Linked DNA regions of Homo sapiens. The protein of the gene in region 3 interacts with the protein of the main gene of each other region in a pairwise test. Each region holds a gene or a part of one and is shown on either strand. Other genes may lie near its edges.

Region 1 (3,500 bases), on a different chromosome or scaffold from region 3:
GGGTAATGCTGTTCCATGCAGAGGTAACTGACAATACTTGTTTTCTAAGGTAGGTGCATGGATACACAAACCAAAATATGCATTAAGTATGTCTTGCTCATCAGTGAAAATGTTAATATCTAACAGAATGACACACTTCAAGAAAATACAATGGAAACGCTAATATCGTACTCTTGGCACACTAAGAAAAATGACGCTCAACTTTTCACTGTTGTGAACACTTGCTTTCACTTGCTATGCACCTGATGACGAGGGGTCCACAGCCATGCCCATGTTCGTGAAAGGTCACCACGTTCTGCTTCTCATCATGGGCATGTGTCATATCCCCAAGGCTGAGGCAAGAAGAGAGAAGGAAAGTAAGTGGCAGTGAGTTCCCACCACGTGACAACTCAATCTCAACTCCTCCTGACCTGCAGACCCTGCACACTCCGATTCTGCCCTATCTCAGGACCTGCACACACCTTCCACGGTTCCTCGAAGTGAACCATCTGTTCATGCCACAGTGACTTCCTCGCCTGGGCTATCAATTCCTAGGCTAGAGGAAGGTGTGGCCCGCATATCAGGGCTGACCTGGGGTTTGGGACCCCACAGCATCCTGGGTAGGGAGCATCCCTGGATATATACAGGGCAGGGAGTAGAAAGAGCATGGGAAATCTCATCATTCAGCCTCAATGCTGTACACTAGAAAATTATAAGAAGGGAATGATTTGGGGAGCAAGTGACAGATGGGATGCCAGTATCATAACAGAATAGCACATCTGCAGGGATGCAGGGGATGAGTGGAAGGTTCTCTTACGGAGTTACTCATCATCTTCCTCAGGATCGCTGATCTCTTCATAAATCACCAGCTGCTTTCTCTCACGCAGTCTGTGGGTCCAGGCATGTTCCCCCCTTTTGGGTCCTATGATGGAGAATAGTTGGAAAGTGAGGGTTGGGTAGGTTGGAGAGTGTTAGGCTCTGTTTACTCAAAAAAAGGAGATGCCTGCTTCCTCCCAAGTGCCCATGGGCCTTCTTTATCCAGTTTTTCACATTCTCTGGCTTAGAGAGGCTGAGACCTTAGACCCACACCAATATAGGCCAAATGCCAATTAAAGTTTTAGCTTCTGGCTCCTTCCCTTCTCAGGCTTAGATTCCCAACCTCTTCACTTACGGGAACATTCCCCCATACCTAATTTCATACAGCACGTATTTGTTAAAGCCACACAGGCATACCTTGTTTTGTTGCACTTCATGTTCATACTGCTTCGCAGATGCTGCAATTTTTTTTTTTGGAAATTCTCACCAATTTTACACTTTTCCATTATTATTATATCTGTTATAGTGATCTGTGATCAGTGAGCTTTACTATTATTACTAAAATTGTTTTTGTTGTTTTTTAGTGTTTTAAAATAATTTTTGTTCTTTATTTTGTGGGTACACAGTAGGTGTATATTCTTATGGGGTACATGAGATGCTTTGATACAGGCATGCAATGCATGATAATCACATCATGGAAAATAGGGTATCCATCCTCAAGCATTTATCCTTGCCTTACAAACAATCCATTTATGCTCTTTTAGTTTTTTTAAGTACAATTAAGTTATTATTGACTATAATCACCCTGTTGTGTGTAATTGTTTTGGGGGTACCAGGAACTGCACCCATAGAATATGACAAACTTAATCGATTAATGTTTTGTGTCTTCTGACTGCTCCACCGATGAGCTGTTCCGCGTCTCTCTTCCTTTTCTTGGGCCTCCCTATTTCCTGAGACACAGCAATACTGAAATGAGGATTATTAACAACCTTACAATGGCCGTTAAGTGTTCAAATGAAAGGAAGAGTCGCATGCCTTTCACTCTAAATCACAAGCTAGAAATGGCTAAGATTAGTGAGGAAGCATGCTGAAAGCCAAGACAGGCTGAAAGCTAGGCCTCTTGCACCAAACAGCCAAGCTGTGAATGCAAAGAAAAGTTCTTGAAGGAAATAATAGTATATAATGCAAAGGAAAAGTTCTTGAAGGAAATAATAATACTAATACTCCAGTGAACACACGAATAAGAAAGCAAAACTGCCTTACTGCTCAAATAGAGAAAGTTTGAGTGGTCAGGATAGAAGATGAAACCAGCCACAACATTCCCTTAAGCCAAAGTCTAATTCAGAGCAAGACCAGAACTCTCTTCAAATCCATGAAAGCTGAGAGAGGTGAAGAAGCTGCAGGAGAAACCTGTGAAGCTAGCAGAGGTTGGTTCGTGAGGTTTAAGGAAAGAAGCCGTCTCTATAACATAAAAGTGCAAGGTGAAGCAGCAAACCCTGATGGAGAAGCTGCAGCAAGTTATCCGGAAGATCTAGCTAAGATCACTGATGAAGGTGGCTACACGAAACAACAGATTTTCAATGTAGATAAAATAGCCTTCTATTGGAAGGAGATGCCATCTAGGACTTTCATAGCTAGAGAGGATTGAGTTCAACTTTGAAAGGAGTTCTACTGTGGGTAAAATGCTATCCAATAGCATCACATACTACAGAGAAATCCTTCATGAAAGGGAGAGCTAATCGATGTGGCAAATTTCATTGTTGTGTTCTTTTAAGAAACTGCCACAGCCACTCCAATCTTCAGCAACCACCACCTTGACCAGCCAGCAGCCATCAACACCGAGGCAAGACCCTCCACCAGCAAAAAGAGTGTGACTCACTGAAGGCTCAGAAGATTGTTAGCATTTTTAACAATGAATTATTTTAAAATTAAGGTATATACATTTTTAGACATAATGCTATTGCACACTTAGTAGACTACACTGTAGTGTAAACATAACGTTTTATGCACTGTCAAACAAAAAACAATGTGTGTGACTCACTTTATTGCAGTGGTCTGGAACCGAACCTGCAGTATCTCTGAAGGACACCTGTATTGGGTAACAGGCATTGAGCTGAGTAAGATATGATCCCAGGTTATCACAGATAGAATCGCTTGAGCACCTTTCATGTCATCAGGCCTTCTAGATTAAATTTAATGTCTCCAAACAATTTATGAACTATGATTCTTTATTTCCATCTTATGGACTAGGAACCTGGAGCTGAGGAAATTTGGAAGACTTTCCTCAAGTCACGTGGTTTTTTTTTATATGGATGACAACTCCAGTCTGTCTCTGGAAGTCATGTCTAACATCTCATCTGGAGCTGGGCAAGCTCCTCAGCCCAGCCTGGACCCAGGGTTATCTGGGATCCATGCCACACACCCAGTCCACACACCTGAACGTCGCCAGGGAAGCCAGTGGGATTGTTCCTGAATTGCTTCCTCTTACCAGATATCATGTTAATCTTCTCAGAGGTAGTTGGTTTTCCCGGGGGGCACAGCTGTTTCCCATCGTTTTGTGGGCCAGATGCTTCTGGCACTTCCTTCGAAACATTTCCTTCCTCTGCTGGCTTCTTGGGCATGATCTTTATAATGTGAAGGTCATAGATAAATAGTATCAGTGACATTTCTATAGTGCTTTTGAGCTTACAAAGGGTCTTCACATG
Region 2 (2,608 bases), on a different chromosome or scaffold from region 3:
TCCCGCCACACCAGTGGCTCCCGGGGTTGGCCAGGGCTCCCAGGCCCACTGGCCCCTTCTGGCCTCCTGGGGGCTGTGCCATGAGCTGTGTCAGCATCAAGATCCCACCCTCAGGCCTCTGCCAGCCCCTGCTCCTGTATCCTACTGGGCCCCACCCCAGTGCTCGGGGAGCATGCAGAACACCTTTCCAGACCATAGGCCTCGGCCGAGGACACTGTGGCCTCAGCCCCCGGGGGCTTGGCCTGCCCTGACCCCCAGAACACAGACAGAGGCTCTGCTCCGGCCCCTGCCCCAGCCCCCGCCACCTGCCAGCACCTTCACCCTCGTTTCCTGGGCCAGACCAGTCCCCAACAAGTGACAGTCCAGGTGAAAGACCCCTGAGCCCTGGAGGGCTGGGCCCTGTGACCTGGCAGTGCCTGCTTCCTACATACAGGCTCCCTGCAGGCACCAGGCCCACAGCAAGGCTGCTCAGCCTTGGCCCGAGCGCTGAGCAGCAGGCACACAACGGTCCCCACTTCCTGCCCGCTCCTGCTCCGGCAACCGGGAGCTCCCACCCTCGGGCCTCGATTCTCTGGCCATGCCAGGCAAGTATGGGGCAGCAGGGGCAGGCGCCTCTGTCAGGCCTGCTCTCCCTGTGGTCACAGACCAAGCATCTGGGCCCAGGAAGAAGTGGGCTGCCTCCCAAGGTCTCCCTGCCCTGGCTGCGTGGGACAACACACCTCTCCCGTGGCCACCTTCTTTGCTGGCTGCGTAGACACCAGAGGCCTCAACCTGCAAAAGGAAGCACAGCATGGCGGCCTCAGCCCAGGCTCCCGAACGCCTGCCCACTTGTTCCCTTTTGCCCATCTTCCCTTTCCCAGTGTTAATTGACTGTTTCTCTGTCCCTTTGGAAGCCTGGTTCTGCGTCCAGGTTCTGTGTGCTCCATCAGTGCTCACTGCACATCAACACAGAGCTCTGACCCGTTCACATTCTCAACAGCGAGCAGCACTCGACACAAACACAGAAGCTGCAGACGCCCCGCTCCCCAGCCCACTCCCCTTCCAACAGTGCCTGAGCCCTCAAGGAGCTGCCTGGTGCCCTACCTCACTCAGGGAGGAGGGGAGGGAGGGTGAAGGGACACTGTCAGACCCGAGAGTGCTTCCCCAACCCTCACCAGGCCCAGGGCAATCCCTACATCTGCTGACAACACCCTGCACAGGGCCTGCTCGCCGGCCCGCCACACACAAAGGCCAAAGGTGCCTTCCACATGCCAAGTCTTCTTGGAGACTGCTGGTCCCCCCAGGGAGACAGGGGGGCCCAGGGGAGAGGACGCAGGCATTACCCACAACCTCCAGCACGGACACACAGGGCTGTCGGGCGGGCAATGAGAGGGCTCAGGGCCTGTGGGGAAGGACGCAGCGGGGCAGAGCCCTTCCCTCCAGGGCACAGCTGTGTGGGGAGGCGGTAGGGGGCCTGAGGCAGGGCCCTGCCTGGCTCTGACGTGTCAGATGAACCCTCGGGACACTGGGAAGGGACCCCATGACAGGTGGACCTTAGCAGAACATCTAGACGTGGAGCTCTGCTCGGGGTGAAGCTGATAGCAGGTGTGAGCCAGGCTGAGGCCCCGGGCTCCCCATGTGGTCCCTCTCCAGACTGGAGACAGTCTGGACACCAGGGCTCCTGGTGGTGCTGTATCCTCAGGCCAGGCCTCCAGCCTGCTTCCTGGAGCCTGACAGCTGCTGCTCCGCCCTCCCCACTCCCATCCCCAGGCCCACTGTGCAGTGGAGTGGGGGCCTCTGGGGATGGCAGCTGGCCCTGCAGCGGGGCTTCTCAGCAGGCTGACCTCAATGAGACACCCCACTGTGGTCTCTCCAGAAGTGGCTGGCGCTCCAGGAGGCAGGCCTGGCAGTTGGGTGGGAGGCCTGATCTTGGCCGGTGGGACTAAGTCCCCAGGAGATTCATGCTCTGGAAGGTGAGGCCAGCAGGCCCCCATTGAGAAGGGCCCTGAGACCCCGCTGGCTCAAGGAGAGGTAGTTTTTTTCTTTTTTTTTTTTCTGAGACGGAATCTTGCTCTGTCGCCAGGCTAGAGTGCAGTGACGCGATCTCGGCCCACTGCAACCTCTGGAAGAGGCAGTTTCTTTGACTTTGGCAGACTGTACCTTAGCTAGAGAGGAGCAGATGCTGGCGGGCAGGAATACGGGGCTACAGGGAGAGCGGTGCTGTTAGGAGGGTGCGCTTCCTGCAGGGACACACCCTCCCTCCCCCACCTGGCACTGAGGACAGGCTGAAATTCAAGCCACAAGGTCCTGCTGCACTGACCCAAGGTCCTGACAGACAAGTCCAGCTTTTCCAGAACCAGGAAGCAGCTGTGCCAGGCCTCACCCTGGGGGGCCAGAAAGCTCCCTACTCCTGCAGAACCCGGCTGGAGAGAGGGTGCGTAGTGTTCATGAGTGCAGAACCGCAAGGGCTCCTGGGGTCTGCGGGCTAGCTGGGGGCCTGTCTCAAGGGCTTCCCCCTCTTCCACGCAGTATCCTGTGTGAACCTGAGGCAGCCAGGCCACACGGGAGGGCCTGAGAGCGCCTGGAGAACAAGCTCCCACCTGGCATCACCTCGGCCATGGCTTTGGCC
Region 3 (3,998 bases):
ACTATTCAGTTAAAAACAAACAAAAAAGAGGCCGGGCGCGGTGGCTCACGCCTGTAATCCCAGCACTTTAGGAGGCCGAGGCGGGCGGATCACGAGGTCAGGAGATTGAGGCCATCCTGGCTAACACTGTGAAACCCCGTCTCTACTAAACATACAAAAACAAAATTAGCCGGGCGTGGTGGCGGGTGACTGTAGTCCCAGCTACTCGGGAGACTAAGGCAGGAGAATGGCGTGAACCCGGGAGGCGGAGCTTGCAGTGAGCCGAGATCGCGCCACTGCACTCCAGCCTGGGCGACAGAGCGAGACTCCGTCTCAAAAAAAAAAAAAAAAAAAAAAGATACAAGTGAGTATTCTTAATAGTATGTCAATTACATCTCAAAAAAGTCAAAAAAAAAAAAAAAAAAAGAATGAAAGAATACCTCCCCAAAAATGATACAAGAAAAGATTCACCTAAATCTGTTCACAGCTGTCTGCAGAGCTCCTACTGTGTGCTGAGCCTGGGGGTAAACAGGGCACGGACACGTTTGGGAGGGGATTACAGGCCGGGTTTCCACACTTTTTGGTCCAGGCAAACCCAGACGAGCCAGCTGGCTCAAGAACTTGGCAGCTGCGTGATGACTGAACAGAGGCTGCGTTCGAACCCACTACTGCAAGACTTAGGAGCCCCCGATGGGAACTGCCGTGGTTCACTGCCCCAGCCCCGCCGCTCAACTGCCCCGCCCTGGCCTACGACATCCTCCTGCCCGCATGGACTGCGCGCAGCGCCGCCAAGCGGGGAGCCCAGCTCGGTGCTAGCGCCCGCGAAGCGGAGGAGGCCGGCGCCCGAGGCTGGGCGAAGTTCCTCCTAGCGCAGCGAGGACCGGAGGGCAAGGCCAGCGCGCGCCGGGCGACCTGCGTCCCGGGCACAGACGCGACGGGCCCGCACGGGGCGGGGACCGCGCGCGCCTGCTGGGCCTACGGCTGTGGGGCGCGCAGAGTCCACCTGGCGGCCAAGGGCGCTGGCGACCGCTGAAGCTCCTGGGGGTGTTCGGGGTCCGGGCTGCGCCTGTGCCCGCGGGAAGGCTGGGCGCTTCCCACACACAGACCCCGCTCCGGGCCAGCCCCGCAGGGAGACTACCAGGGCTGGCGGTAGCTGGGCGTGGTCGGGTCGGGGGCGGCTGTGGGCGGCCGGCAGGCAGCGCGCGGGGCAGCCCTCGGCAGACGGCCAATGGCGGCGGTGCTCGGGGCGCTCGGGGCGACGCGGCGCTTGTTGGCGGCGCTGCGAGGCCAGAGCCTAGGGCTAGCGGCCATGGTGAGTGCACAGCGGCCGCGTGGGTGGGGGTCCGGGGTCGGGGGGCGGTGCGAGGCCCGGCGGCGTCGGCTGAGGGACCAGCGGGACTGGGGCGAACCCGGCGTGGGCCGAGCCTTGGAGCTCGGGCGTCGGGTCACCGCGTCCCGGGACTGACCACCTGTCCGGTGCGCCGCTCAGAGACCGGGGTGGCCGCAGCCTCCGCCACTTGCCCTTGACTTTACACTTCCGCCGAAGCCTACGAACTTGCCAACCGGAAACAAATGGGAACGAATTTTGTTCAGCAACTACAAAAGGCAGATGTGAAAAGTAGTTGCAGAACAATTCGGTGCCCGCTGCCGCTCGTTGTGCTGAGGACGAACGGCGCTGCGGGCCTGGCTCCCTATGGCGGCTCCCTGCTCGCGCTTCACTCCAAGGGGAACCCACAGAGGTTTTGGAGGAGTTATTAATAAATTGTCTTTTTTGGTGACATATTGACTTTTCTTTCCTTTTCCAAGGGGCCGTCAGTTTTCCTGCTGTAGAAATTAATATTTTGGAGTAAATGGAGGGAAAGTTTTAACATGCAGCACCACCTAGTGGAAAAGTGGTGCGTTAAACTCACCATCTCATTTTAAGTTGCATTTTAACCGCCCATTTCAGTTTGAAATGTTTTGTTTTGTTTTGTTTTTTCGACACGGAGTCTCGCTGTATCGCCGAGCCCGGAGTGGAGTGGCGCGATCTCGGCTCACTGCAACCTCCATCTCCTGGGTTCACGCTATTCTCCTGCCTCACCCTCCCGAGTAGCTGCGATTACAGGCGCGTGCCATTTCGCCCAGGTAATTTTTTATATTTTTAGTAGAGAGGGGTTTTCGCCATGTTGGCCAGGCTAGTCTCGAACTCCTGACCTCAGGTGATCTACCTGCCTCGGCCTCCCAAAGTGCTGGGATTACAGGCGCGAGCCACTGCGCCTGGCCTGAAATTCTTTAATAGAAGAATTTTTTTTTTTTTTTTTTTTTTTTTTTGAGAAGGAGAATCACGCCGTCACCCAGGCTGGAGTGCAGTGGCGCGATCTCGGCGTATTGCAAGCTCCGCCTCCCGGGTTCACGCCATTTTCCTGCCTCAGCCTCCCGAGTAGCTGGGACAACAGGCGCCCGTCGCCACGCCCGGCTAATTTTTTTGTATTTTTAGTAGAGGCGGGGTTTCACCGTGTTAGCCAGGATGGTCTCGATCTCCTGACCTCGTCATCCACCCTCCTCGGCCTCCCAAAGTGCTGTAATAGAAGAAATTTAAAATAGCTCGAAGACGGAGGAAGATAGGCACTCCGCCGCTTCTTGTCCACGAAGGGGAGAACACAAGTTGAGTGCCTACTGTCACCTAGGCGTGTCTTCAGGCGTACTCTGCCCCAGGTGCTAGTGATCCAGTAAGATTAGGGTGTTCTGGGAAGGAATGAGTCAACAGACATGATTTGAGCGCTGCCCCATGCCAGGCTCAATGCTAGGTACCCTCACATTCAAGATCTGTAATCTAAGCCTTTCAAAAAATCTTGGCAGGTAGATATTATAATATCCCCACTACAGACAGAAGGATCCCGGAATTCAGAAAAGCGGAGTTTAGTATCCCACAGCTAAAAGTAACAAAGTTAGGCCTTAGATCTAGTTTACTCTCTTCAAATCCTAGCCTACCCCCCATCCCCTGAAAAAATTAAGCCCACCACCAAGGGTTCTGCTGTGAATGTGCCCTCATGGGGGCCTTTGATGTTATGTAGATGAAGTGGCTCCATTTCCCAGTCCTGGGTGTGGTCCCTGCTGCTGGGCAGGTGTCTGTTGTGGGCATAAAGTGCATACCACTGATCTTAGCGGGGATGTGGATGGTCCAGCACTCAGAGAAAACAGCTCAGTGTGTTCTACAGACTCCAGGTTCCTGCCTTATTACAGGCAGCATGTTTAATGGTTTTCTTTGCAGCTACTCAGTGTGGACACACATAATTCTGTTTCTTTTCCAAAATTCTCTGAGTTGACAAAATAAGTGTTTAATAAGAATTTCAGAATTCTTTCTTTTTTTTTGAGACGGAGTCTCGCTCTGTTGCCCAGACTGGAGTGCAGTGGTGCGGTCTTGGCGCACTGCAACTTTGCCTCCTGGGTTCAAGCGATTCTCCTGCCTCAGCCTCCTGAGTAGCTGAGACTATAGGCGCGTGCCACCACGCTTGGCTAATTTTTGTATTTTTAGTAGAGACGGGTTTCACCATCTTGGCCAGGCTGGCCTCGAACTCCTGACCTTGTGATCTGCTCGCCTCGGCCTCCCAAAGTGCTGGGATTACAGGCATGAGCCACCACGCCTGGCCAAGAATTTTAGATTTCTTATGATAGATGTATGTGTAAGTTTTTCAGAACTGTCACTGGAAAACTGATGAATGAATCTCTTTTGATTTTTTTTTTTTAATTGAGTCGGAGTTTCACTCTGTTGCCCAGGCTGGAGTGCAGTGGCACGATCTCGGCTCACTGCAACCTCTATCATCCGGGTTCAAATGATTCTCCTTCCTCAGCCTCCTGAGTAGCAGGGACTACAGGCGCCTGCCACCACGCCCAGCTAATTTTTTGTATTTTTAGTAGAGATGGGGTTTCACCATCTTGGCCAGGCTGGTCTTGAACTCCTGCCCTCGTGATCCACCCACCTCGGCCTCCCAAAGTGCTGGGATTACAGGTGTGAGCCACCACGCCCGGACTTTTTTTTT
Region 4 (3,500 bases), on a different chromosome or scaffold from region 3:
GTTAATTCTCAGAAATCCTTGAAAATTTGCACTGATCTGACATCTCACTTTGATATCATGTATCTTGATGCTTCATGATGTCAATTGTATCCTGTATCTTCAAATACGCGAAAATTCTGTTTATAGATCTTTACGTATTAGAGACGAGTTAACTCACCTTTTGTTCCGATGCCTTTCTGCTACCCCTCTTTCCCAGGAGCACTGGTGGTGGTGTCTTTATGATTTTACGTGGGGTTGCCATGGCACCCCGGGGAGAATGAGCATCTCCCTGGGATGCATCGGCGACTGAGGAGGATGTGGGTCTTCTCTCTGGGGGAGGGGCATGTGCATGCGTGTGTGTAAGTATGCGTGTGTGTGTGCTCATGTGTGTGTGTATGTGTGTGTGCTTGTGTGTGTATGTGTGTGTGTGTGTATGTGTGTGTGTGTGTGTGAGGAATGGCTGCACCGTGTCACACAGAAGCGTGCAGCAGCTGCTAGAGCGTTCCTGCCAGAGTGGTCCAGGATGCCAGGCATCTCCCAAGGCGCTAGGTGGGGCCCTGGCTTCGTCCCATTCAGACCTCGTTCTCTGGTCCTCCGGAGTTTCTGTGAACTTCCTGAGGCCTGGAGCCCACCCTGTTTCGGTTGTCTGCAGCTGGGACCCCAGGTTATTTGTGGGTGACATTATTATTCCAGTTGAAGAAACCCAAGTCCCACAGCCCTTGTGGGCATCAAACTTGAGAAACAGGTCTGTCCAGTTGTGGCACTGGCCATGCCTCTGGAGAGGCATCCTGCAGGGAGAGGCTTTAGATGCAGGGGAGGCATGCAGGGCAGGCCAGAGTCCCAGCTTCCGGGTCATGGAAGAGGGTCCAAGGAGCTTCTAGGCTGAGGATGGGGCGCCTCTCCTGGGTAGGGTGGGGCCAGGCTGCCTGTGCTCTGAGTCTCCTGGGCTCCCCTCTTAGAGGCCCCACTGCTGGCCACCTCCTGACTCCATCCTGGGGTCTTCACACCCAGAATTGGCCACCCAGGGCCCAGCCACAGATGCTCTAGCCCTTGCCCACTGTCTCCAGGACCCTGGGTCCTGTCCACTCCTTGCCGACGTTCTACCTCACCCAAGCCTCCAGGACTCCCAGGCTGGGCCTTGGCTTTCACTCCCAGCTGTTCCCGACATGTGTCTCTGGCCCCACTTCTGCTGAATGGAAAAACCCCAGTACAAGGGCACAGTGTCTGGGCCGCCCCCCTCCCACAGGACCCCAAGGCTCAGGACACCGTGCTGGGCCTCGCAGAGCACACAGTGGGGCTGCACTGAATGGGCCCCATTGTTCTTTGCACCCAGAGCCTGTGCCAGCTCCCAAAGAGGGGGGATGCCTCATCTGCACACCGCGCAGCACTTCACACGTGCACAAAGCCCTCAGTGTGACCACACCAGCCCGGCCTCCTTGCGGGACACACACGGGACGTGTTTGGACTGAAGAGAGGAGACCCGGGAGCTATGGCCAAGGGAGACAAAGGGCACATTGGAGTCCCGGCTCCTCTGTCCGTGAGGTCCCTGGGCTCCCTCGTCCCTCAGCTCCCACCAAAGACGCTCGTCAGGGTGGGCACCGTGGAGCTCTGGGCCCGAGCCTCCCCCACCCCAACCCCCGCTTCTTGTGCCATCTGCTGAGTCACGTGACCTCTCTGAGCTGCCATGGACGCTCTGGTAAATCAGGGTGATGAGCTCCACACTGCCTTCCTTGCACAATCAAATAGGCTCTTGGATGTGTCGTTCACATCTGCTCCCAGTGCCGGCACAAGGTCCGGTAAACACATCCATGCAGGGGAACAAACCCATCGCTGGTGCCCTGGCCCAGCCCTGGCCCTGTCTCCTGTGCGCCTTTGACAAGTTGTTCAGCAAACGTGTCCTGACAGCTGGGTGTGGAAAGGCCCTGCCCTCTAGGAAGCTTCCGTGAGGTGGGATGGGGCATGCAGGGGTGGGCCGTGCAGGGGTGGTCCCCCCCGCCCTGACTTGAACACGCCATGCCGGCCCCTCTGTCACCTTTCTCCCCGTCCACCCCACTCAGCATAGCTGCTGCTGTCACGGGTGTGCAGAAAGCTTCGGCAAAGGATGCACACCAGCCCCACCCGTCCTGAGCCACCTCTGCCTGCCAGAGAGAGACGGGAGGATGAGGCTGAGCATCTGCAGGACCTGAGGGATGGAGGGAGGGTACCACTGCAGCACCCCTTAAATACTTGTTGCCACCAAGAAAACCCTGGAAGACTGAAGTGGAGGAAATCTGAGTCTCGAGCGACCTGAAGCTGTGCCCGTCAGAGTGGACCTGAGCCGCCAGCACATGCGATGGCCACCGTGCTCTCGCCCCCACCCTAAGGGAGAGCAGGCGCATTTTCATTCTGATGCAGAATGAACAGTGCCCTGAAGGCGGTCCTTCCCGGTCGAGCTATGTGCATGTGCTTTTAGTGACCTCATCATGTTTCTGCTACCTGCAAAACCTGCCACCCCCATCCCCGAGAAGTTGGGGGTGCATGTGGAACTCACTCATGCATTCACAGGTGCTAGCGCTTCCATGGGAAGGGGTTGGGGACAAGTCTCAGCCAAGGTGACAGCATCACAGATGGGTAGGGGCTCTGTGGGGAAGCAGAGGTGGTGGTGGCAAAAGGGAGGGGGCTGGAATCGTGCTGGGAGCACCCTGGAGTGGCATTTGTGGGTAAAGGACGGGGATCTGGTGCGTAGCAGCCAGTCCCTTTGTGCACAGGCATGGACCTCTGGCTGTGGCTGTCAGCCACTGTGCCTGCTGTTTGCCCAGACCCCTCAGTTGATCCCCTCCACTCATGACCCCCATCAAGCCTAGGAGGCTGGGACCCCGATCATGCCCATTCTCCTGGCCAGGGGACAAACGCTCCCTGGAAATCACACAGCTAGAGAGGGTCCAAGAGAGCAAACAAGATGCAGCTGTCAAGGGCAAGTCTGCACCTTTTCCTTAAAGTCAGAGGCAGACTCTTATACGCACCATACTCACATGTGTGATCCCATGAGTGTGCATGGTGTGTGGGTGCCTGCATGTGGTGTGTGTATGTGAGTATGCAAGTGTGTATGGTATGCCTACCTATGTGTGCATGATGAGTGTGCAAGCTTGTGTGTGGTAGAGGCACCGGTGTGTGTGCATAGGTGTGAGTGTGAGGTGTCTGAATGTGTGTGTGAGATCGTGGGGGCCGCATGAGGCTGCCATTGTCTGTTCAGCCCTGTTATACTCGGCAAACACCAAATATCACCCATGGCAAGCCCAGGGCAGTGATTTCTGCCCGTTCTCTCGTTAACACACCACCAGAATGCAGCCCAAGGCAAAGAGCCAGCACCAATCCTTGGGGTGCACTGAACAGGACCAAGGAGGGGCTGAGGGTGGGGCCTCCTGATCACCAGGCACTGCACACATTATTTCCCATCTTCAAATGTGCCCTGTGGACAGGTTCCAGCCTGGCTTCTCACGGAAGGCTTAGAAAGGATCAATGAGGTGCCCCGGCTTACTCAG

Evidence for each region.
Region 1: the proteins of PCBD2 (region 3) and SSX3 interact in a two-hybrid assay, tested with the Homo sapiens proteins (one large-scale study listed by BioGRID and IntAct).
Region 2: the proteins of PCBD2 (region 3) and BRF1 interact in a two-hybrid assay, tested with the Homo sapiens proteins (one large-scale study listed by BioGRID and IntAct).
Region 4: the proteins of PCBD2 (region 3) and KCNIP3 interact in a two-hybrid assay, tested with the Homo sapiens proteins (one large-scale study listed by BioGRID and IntAct).

The regions. Positions count from the first base shown.
Region 1 is NC_000023.11:48,346,704-48,350,203, forward strand, and holds part of SSX3 (protein SSX3), read right to left. Parts: intron 3,420-3,500; coding exon 3,284-3,419; intron 2,885-3,283; coding exon of another isoform or gene 2,838-2,884; exon of another isoform or gene 2,694-2,837; intron 1,746-2,693; exon of another isoform or gene 902-1,745; coding exon 801-901; 3' UTR 797-800; intron 333-796; 3' UTR 1-332. UniProt on the Homo sapiens protein: Could act as a modulator of transcription.
Region 2 is NC_000014.9:105,211,394-105,214,001, forward strand, and holds part of BRF1 (transcription factor IIIB 90 kDa subunit), read right to left. Parts: exon of another isoform or gene 782-2,608; intron 772-781; coding exon 720-771; intron 1-719.
Region 3 is NC_000005.10:134,903,933-134,907,930, forward strand, and holds the start of PCBD2 (pterin-4-alpha-carbinolamine dehydratase 2), read left to right. Parts: upstream 1-1,198; 5' UTR 1,199-1,207; coding exon 1,208-1,291; intron 1,292-3,998.
Region 4 is NC_000002.12:95,310,847-95,314,346, reverse strand, and holds part of KCNIP3 (calsenilin), read right to left. Parts: intron 1-3,500. UniProt on the Homo sapiens protein: Calcium-dependent transcriptional repressor that binds to the DRE element of genes including PDYN and FOS. Affinity for DNA is reduced upon binding to calcium and enhanced by binding to magnesium. Seems to be involved in nociception.